Homo sapiens: one gene and its partner. The protein of the gene in region 1 interacts with the protein of each later gene in a biochemical or structural test. Each region holds a gene or a part of one and is shown on either strand. Other genes may lie near its edges. The genes, in order: RGS13 and CREB1.

Region 1 (3,828 bases):
CTTTCAAACATGAGCAGAGTAACTAGAGATGAAAAGGACTTTGAACAAAAGCCTGGAGGAGAAGAATCATAGATGTACAAGTAGAAAATGAAGTGACCCACATTGGTGGAGGGCATGTTATGTGACAGGTCATAGCTAGAGACAAATTTTAGAAAATGTTTTGGGTTAGGGTGTAGAGAGTACTAAATACCAAGATTTTGGACTTGTTGGTAGGCAGCAGAGAAAAAAGAATGATATTCAAAGACATGTACTTTATTACTATTAAAAGAAACTACCAATTATTGTGTGCTTAATCTATATTAGGCATTGAGCTAGATGTTTTGTATCTCACCTGCACAATAAACCTGAAAGGATAAGTGATACTATTCCCATTTTGTAGATGAAGAGTATGAAACTCCAAGAAAGAGATCAATCTAGCAAGGTGGCAAAATGTGTATTACAGAGGATTGGGACAAAAATTTACAATATAGTTAACTGAATATGCACTTTTGTCTCTTCATCACATTTCAATGTTCTAACACTGACCCAGAAGATATATTTGTTTAAAATTCACATTCATGCTGGCAAATTGGATTATAAACTATGAGGAATACCTGAAAAGTGAAAGCCAGTGGCGATTGCATCAAAGAAAGAAACTATGGCCCCAAATGCCCATTGGAAAGGCATGCTACAAAATATGAGAGCTCAGGTGGTGACCCAAGCCTGTAGAGGTAGATCCAGCCCTAGGGATGAAGCAGAAGTAAGCGCCAGAATGGTTGATTAACGTGTTTCAGCAGGAGTAGCCAAGTGTCTACACCTACTGCCATTACCCTCTGGGCTGGGCAGTGACAACTGAGTCCATACTAAAGAGGGTCTTGAGTCAGAAAGAGCAGGTAGTGCCTCAGGACTATGACAACCCCCATGAGGAACAGGGGGTACCTTGCCCAGAATAGCCACTGGTACACCCCACTAGTTAAAGCATGTAAGTAGCACAGCCAACTCTCCTTCATAGTCCATAGCTCTAAACAGATAAAACATTCACAGAGAGGCTAAAATGGGATCTTAAATAAAAAGATGGTTCTATAGGCAAAAATTAACAAGCATTGAGGGGAACCAACTCCATTTAAAAAAAACTACCAAATTCAACAAGAGAATTTTCTGTGTCTACACCCTACATTTTTTTTCTGTACCTGTCTTCTGGTTTTATCATTTTCTACAACGGACCAGCTTTTCTGACCCCAAACGCAATTGACTATTCTTTTGAATGCACGTCCTCCTTTATTTTTCCTGCACTGAGCCCATGACTTTGTCTCTGTCACATCCATTGCTGGTATCTCTTATTTGTACCATGTTAATGTCGATACTTACCTACAACTATATTCAGACCCATGTATAGTCCCACTTAAATCAGACACTGAAAAAGTTGAAACAAACTTTGGGGAGGAGTTTTAGAACAGCAAGACTCAAATTTATTCTTACTTTTGAAGGCAGCAAGAACAGCGAGTTAAGTGTTTTTGTTTAATACTAACTTTAGAAGGCTATGGTATGCGTTACTACTTAAGCATATTTTCCAAGGGATTTTGTGCATATACTTGTGAAGAATATTCACAGTGACTAATCTTGTTTTAATTAACACCAGAGAAAATAATAGTGGTTGACATAACAAACTATTTTCAGGTTTTCTTTTTTTAACTGTGTCAGTTGCCAGTTAGAAGGCTGTGAGAAGAATAGCATACATTCATCATCTGGCACCCCCACCTTTACCTCTAAGAATGGAACTCGCTAGTTATTCAAAGATGACAGATACGCAATACTCACATTTTGTAGCCATTAAATTTTCAAAAGACTGGGCCCACTGTAATACTTCCTCCAAAGTAAGGCTTTGAAAAGAAACAAAAAGCACTGATTGGGCTAAATATTCTCAAGGTTTTTGTTGAACTAAGTAAAATTATATTATCTTGAAAATGACACCAAAATATATTTACATTCCATTTGTGTGTGGCTTTGGTTGGAAAGTTATTTTCCTGTGATATTTTACATTTTATTTTTACTATTTAAATTTTTTAAATTATAAAAATTGTGCAAATAGTGTAGACTTGAAAATATAATTTAATAAATATTATTCAGAACCATAGTCCTATAATCTCCCTATTAATAAATTACCACTATTAGTATTTTGATGTAGTTTTTTAAAGTCTTTTTGTTATGTTTGTATTTGTGTGTTTTTAATCAAGAAGTAATCACACTATGTGTGTTTATACTTTATGCATTTTATGTCATCATAATTGTATTAATCATTTGTAGTGTTATAATTTATAATTACAAATGTATAATCATTGATAGTCATATTGTTTATGGTGATGGTGAAATATGCTACAAGGGGGGCATTCCATAGTTTACATAATTATTGTCAAACAGCATATTGATTTTCTCTCATTTTTCACCATAAAAACTCAAATGTAGCCCAGCTGTGTTTAAGGCTTGCCATGGCCACATGATTAGAGTAATTCCAGGGCACTAGCAGTAGAATCAAAGTTGGTTAAAAGAGGCAGATTTTTAAGGTTTTTGGTACAGACTGCCAAATTGCTTTTAAAAGGGTTATGCACTGTTTGCCGCTGCCACCAGCCAAGTGTTTACCTATTTATCTATTAGAATCTTAGAGTTAATCCACAAAACCTATTTGCATGCACTCATGTAATACAGTTAGTAACCCTAAAGCTAGTATTTTCTCAGTCTCCTACTTGCTAGAATTTTTTTGTATCAGTTTTAATTTTTATTAAGGTGTATTATGTCAAGTTACATTTTACCTAAACGGTATAAACAAAGCCATTTACCATTTAGAAAATAGTTGTGAAAGATTCCAGAACTCTGTTCATTTTGGTGAGCTTCATGAGGTGAATTGGCAAATGACTGTATTCTCAAATACAAGTAACTTTATACACCATGGAATACTATGCAGCCATAAAAAGAAACAATATCATGTCCTTTGCAGGGACATGAATGGAGCTGGAAGCCCATATCCTCAGCAAACTAATGCAGGAACAGAAAATCAAATACTGCCTGTTCTCACTTATAAGTGGGAACTGAATGATGAGAACATATGGACACATTGGGGAGAACAACACACACTGGGGCCTGTTGTAGGGTGGGGGCGTGGGAGGAGGGAGAGCATCAGGAATAATAGCTATTGGATGCTGGGCTTACTACCTAGGTGATAGGATGATCTGTGCAGCAAACCATCATGGCAGACATTTACCTATGTAACAAACCTGCACATCCTGCGCATGTACCCATGAACTTAGAATAAAGGTTGGAAATAAAACAGAAATAGGCAATGTGTTTATTGCCATTCAGTTTATGGTGCATTCTTAATTGTTCTGCTTTCAACAACTAGATAATTGAAGATGGCTATAGACACGCAAGCACTGTCCATTGGCTATACCTAAAATTAGCAGCCTAAAAATTAGTGCTGCAGGAACAGCCATCAGCATTAGCAGGTTCTTAACACAATGAAGGAGGATTAGTTAAAGAGATTAAAAAATATCCGAGAACATGGAAAAATATTGGGAGTCCTTAAAAGGTCAGATATCTTTTGTTTTCTAAAAATTCAGACGGATCCTGCCAGTTTTGGATGGACTGCTTGCATCAGTACTGAGGCTTAACAGTGTACTGTGTTAAGATTGCTTTCAAAAAACATTTCCATGAAATAGTATCTGAGTCATTGTTCTTTTCTCTTGTTAAAACTTTAGAAAAAGTAACCTAAAATAACCTTTTCAATCTGGTGAAATGGAAAGAGCTAGGCAAGGTTTATTGAATGCCTGTCCGTTCTAATCATTCCCATTATATAGG
Region 2 (3,828 bases), on another chromosome or scaffold:
TTTATCTTTAAAATGTACACACTATGACTTTTTTGAGTTGATTAAACTCAGAAAGTGATTAATAATATAGCAGCAAGGGCACAAATCTCTTTCCAGAAAACATCATTAAGTAAAGCTGTCATGGGCCAGTCGCGGTGGCTGACGCCTGTGTGATCCCAGCACTTTGGGAGGCTGAGGTAGGTGGATCACCTGAGGTCAGGAGTTCGAGACCAGCCTGGCCAACATGGTGAAACCCCGTCTCTACTAAAAATACAAAAATTAGCTGGGCATGGGGGCAGGCGCCTGCAATCCCAGCTACTCAGGAGGCTGAGGCAGGATAATCACTTGGACCTGGAAGGCAGAGGTTGCAGTGAGCTGAGATTGCACCATTGCACGCCAGGCTGGGCGACAAGAGCGAAACTCTGTCTTAAGAAAAAAACAAAAGCTGTCATGGTATATTTCGTTTTTTGTATTCCCAAGTTGGTGTTTATGCGTTGATCATATATACAAAGTTTTTAATGTAAGAATATTGTTTTGAGGTTTTACTAATATTTGATTTAAAATATTACTATGTGCTATTTGGCCAGGCGTGGTGGCTCACGTCTGTAATCCCGGCACTTTGGGAGGTCGAGGCGGGCGGATCACTTGAGGCCAGGAGTTTGAGACCAGCCTGGCCAAGATGGTGAAACCCCATCTCTACTAAAAATAGAAGAATTATCTGGGTATAGTTGTATACGCCTGTAGTCCCAGCTGCTTGGGAGGCTGAGGCAGGAGAATTGCTTGAGCCCTGGAAGTGGAGGTTGCAGTGAGCCAGTATCACCCCACTGAACTCCACTCTGGGTGACAGAGCAAGATGCCATCTCATAAATAAAATATTACTGTGTGCTATTTGTACCTGCTAAATGATTAAAATGTTTACAAAGTGCTTTGTTGTTGTTGTTGTTGTTGAGACGGAGTCTTTCTCTGTTGCCAGGCTGGAGTGCAGTGGTGCGATCTCAGCTCACTGCAACCTCCGCCTCCTGGGTTAAAGCGATTCCCCTGCCTCAGCCTCCCAAGTAGCTGGGATTACAGGCGCCTGCCACCATGCCCAGCTAAAGAGACAGGGTTTCACCATGTTGGCCAGGATGGTCTCGATCTCCTTGACCTCGTGATCCACCCACCTCTGCCTCCCAAAGTGGTGGGATTACAGGCGTGAGCCACTGCGCCTGGCCTACAAAGTGCTTGTCTTTACATATTTGGGGATGGGGGTGGGGTAGATCATTGAAATCTGTAAAGGCAGAACGTTTTTTATCTGGAACATATCTGTAGACTAACAGAGTTAAATGATTTCCCACAGTGTCATGGAATCATCAGTGGATTGCCTCTTGGGGTGGAGGCAAAGATCATTAAAGCAGCAAACTGATAATGTGAACGTGGTTGTTTTTTCTCTGCCAATTAAATATATGCTAGTTTAGTCATTATAGAAGAGCCAGATGCTGGTCAGCTTGTTGAAGTTGTAAGTAGAAGGTGTGGTTTTATCACATCTGTAAATGTAGGTTTTTGAGACAAAACTTAAATAAGAATAGACGTTAGTTTTTATTCACATTCAGAATGTCTGACTCCCCTTAATATATACACACTCTTGTCTTATCTACTGGGTTTTTTTGTTGTTGTTTTTTGTTTTGCCTTTTCTCTCTCTCTTTTTAAGCTCTGCCAGACAAGGCCCTATGAAGATAGGTTTTACAGGTTGAGAATCTTTTATCTGAAATTCTTGGGACCAGAAGTATTTCCAGTTTTGGGTTTTTTCAGATTTTAGAATATTTGCATATACATACATAATGAGCTATCTTGGGGATGGGACCCAAGTCTAAACATGAAATTTGTTTCATATACACATTATACACATAGCCTGAAGGTAATTTTATACAAAATTTTTAATAATTTTGTGCATGAAACAGTTTTGACTGTGAACTGTTACATGAGGTCAGGTGTGGGAATTTTTCATGGCATCATGTCAGTGCTCAAAAAGTTTGAGATTTTGGATGTTTTATTAGGGATGCTTACCCTGTATTATATTTTGCCCAGATGTTTCCTCATTTGTCTTCTAGGCTACCAGAAAGATGTTAGCTTAGAAAAACGTATTCTGGCGTTTATTCCAACAGATGAGAAGGCAGTTTCTCCAGTGATGAATAATTACCTATAATTTAATACGTGCATTATACATCTCCAGTGATGAAAAATCACTGTGTATTAAAAAATTCTTGAAGCTAGGTACATAATCTCAACTCCTAAAAAAGAAAATAAACAGTAGTACTCCTTGATGAACTTACAGATGCTAAGTTGCCTTTTCTTAGAGTTGAAATAAGGTGATAAAGGAGTTTACCGTGAGACTAGCTGTGTGAACAAAGATGAAAAACACCCTTTCAGTTTTCTTCCTCTTGGATGATTCTAGGATCTCTAAAAAATAATCTTAAAAGGGGCGAGGTTTTGAGAGGATGAGGTCTAAGGAATTGATGGTGAGTTTTTTCTGAAAGAAGAGAAGTGACATTTGATTAGATAAGAAAGGGTTAAAAGGGAAGTTATTAATAAAATAGTTTAGGAGTAGAGTGGATCTGAAAGTTGACTTATACCAATGATGATAGAATGTGTCTTTTCCCAAAGGTTAGTGCATCTTCTCTGAAATGAAGACGTTTCTTTCATCAATTTTAAGTGAATTTCTAAGGATCTGGTTATCTACTTGTGAGTTTTTGGTTGTAACTGTATGACAGTACAGATGTAACTAAAAATGTTTGTAATTTACCCAAGGTTAAATAACCATTATTTTTGAGGGCTGTTATCCCTGTTGGTATAAGTAAGTAGTTGGCAGTAGGGGACACAGAAATACCTTGTTTTTCACCACTGAAGTGAAAATTACAGATTATTCTGAATTATTTGTACTCTTTTTTTTTTTTTTTGAGAGGAATCTCGCTCTGTCTCCCAGCCTGGAATGCAGTGGTGTGATCTCGGCTCACTGCAACCTCCGCCTCCTGGGTTCCAGCGATTCTGCTGCCCCAGCCTCCCAAGTAGCTGGGATTACAAGCATGTGCCACCATACCTGGCTAATTTTTTTTTTTTTTTTTTGTATTTTTAGTAGAGACAGGATTTCACCATGTTGGCCAAGCTGGTCTCGAACTCCTGACCTTATGTGATCTGCCTGCCTCAGCCTCCGATTACAGGCATGAACCACCGCCCCCAGCCCTATTTGTACTCTTAAAGGGGAGTCATTTTCTTATAATAAGTATCAGTAGTAGCTCTATTGTTTGCTGTGATCAATGGTGACACCTTGACTTTATGTATTGCCATTTATCAATCATTTATTCAGTGAAGATTTATTGACCATTGACTTTATTATGGTTGGTGAAATAATCGCAAGAAAATTTATTCAGTTAGGTATTTATAAAAATACCTAGGTATTAAATGAAGATTGTTCTAGTTGATATAAGCAATAAAGCCTGACTATATGGCTCCTACCCTCAAGAATCTTACGGTATAGTAGGGATGATGAAATAGTGTAAGAATGATTTATATGTGCCAGAGTACATGACAGAGTTTTTACTGTCTTGAAGAGCTACAGAGTTCAGAAGAGAAGGGGCTTAGTGAGGAAAAGTTTTGTGGGAGAAGTAGAATTCAAGTTGAATACTAAAGAACTTCAGTAAGTACAGATAAAATGGAGTGTATTCTAGGCAGTGGAATGGACAAAAAAATGAAAACATGGACATATAATGAACTTGACATACTCATAAATTGGTGAAGAAAGTATTAGATTATAGATCTACATTTTGAGGAATGCTGAGTATGAGGCAGGGAGCTTTGAGTTTCATGTAAGAGAAG

Evidence for each region.
Region 2: the proteins of RGS13 (region 1) and CREB1 form a complex in vitro, tested with the Homo sapiens proteins (one study listed by BioGRID).

What each region holds. Positions count from the first base shown.
Region 1 is NC_000001.11:192,645,957-192,649,784, reverse strand, and holds part of RGS13 (regulator of G-protein signaling 13), read right to left. Parts: intron 1,860-3,828; coding exon 1,798-1,859; intron 1-1,797. UniProt on the Homo sapiens protein: Inhibits signal transduction by increasing the GTPase activity of G protein alpha subunits thereby driving them into their inactive GDP-bound form. Binds to both G(i)-alpha and G(q)-alpha.
Region 2 is NC_000002.12:207,536,148-207,539,975, forward strand, and holds part of CREB1 (cyclic AMP-responsive element-binding protein 1), read left to right. Parts: intron 1-3,828.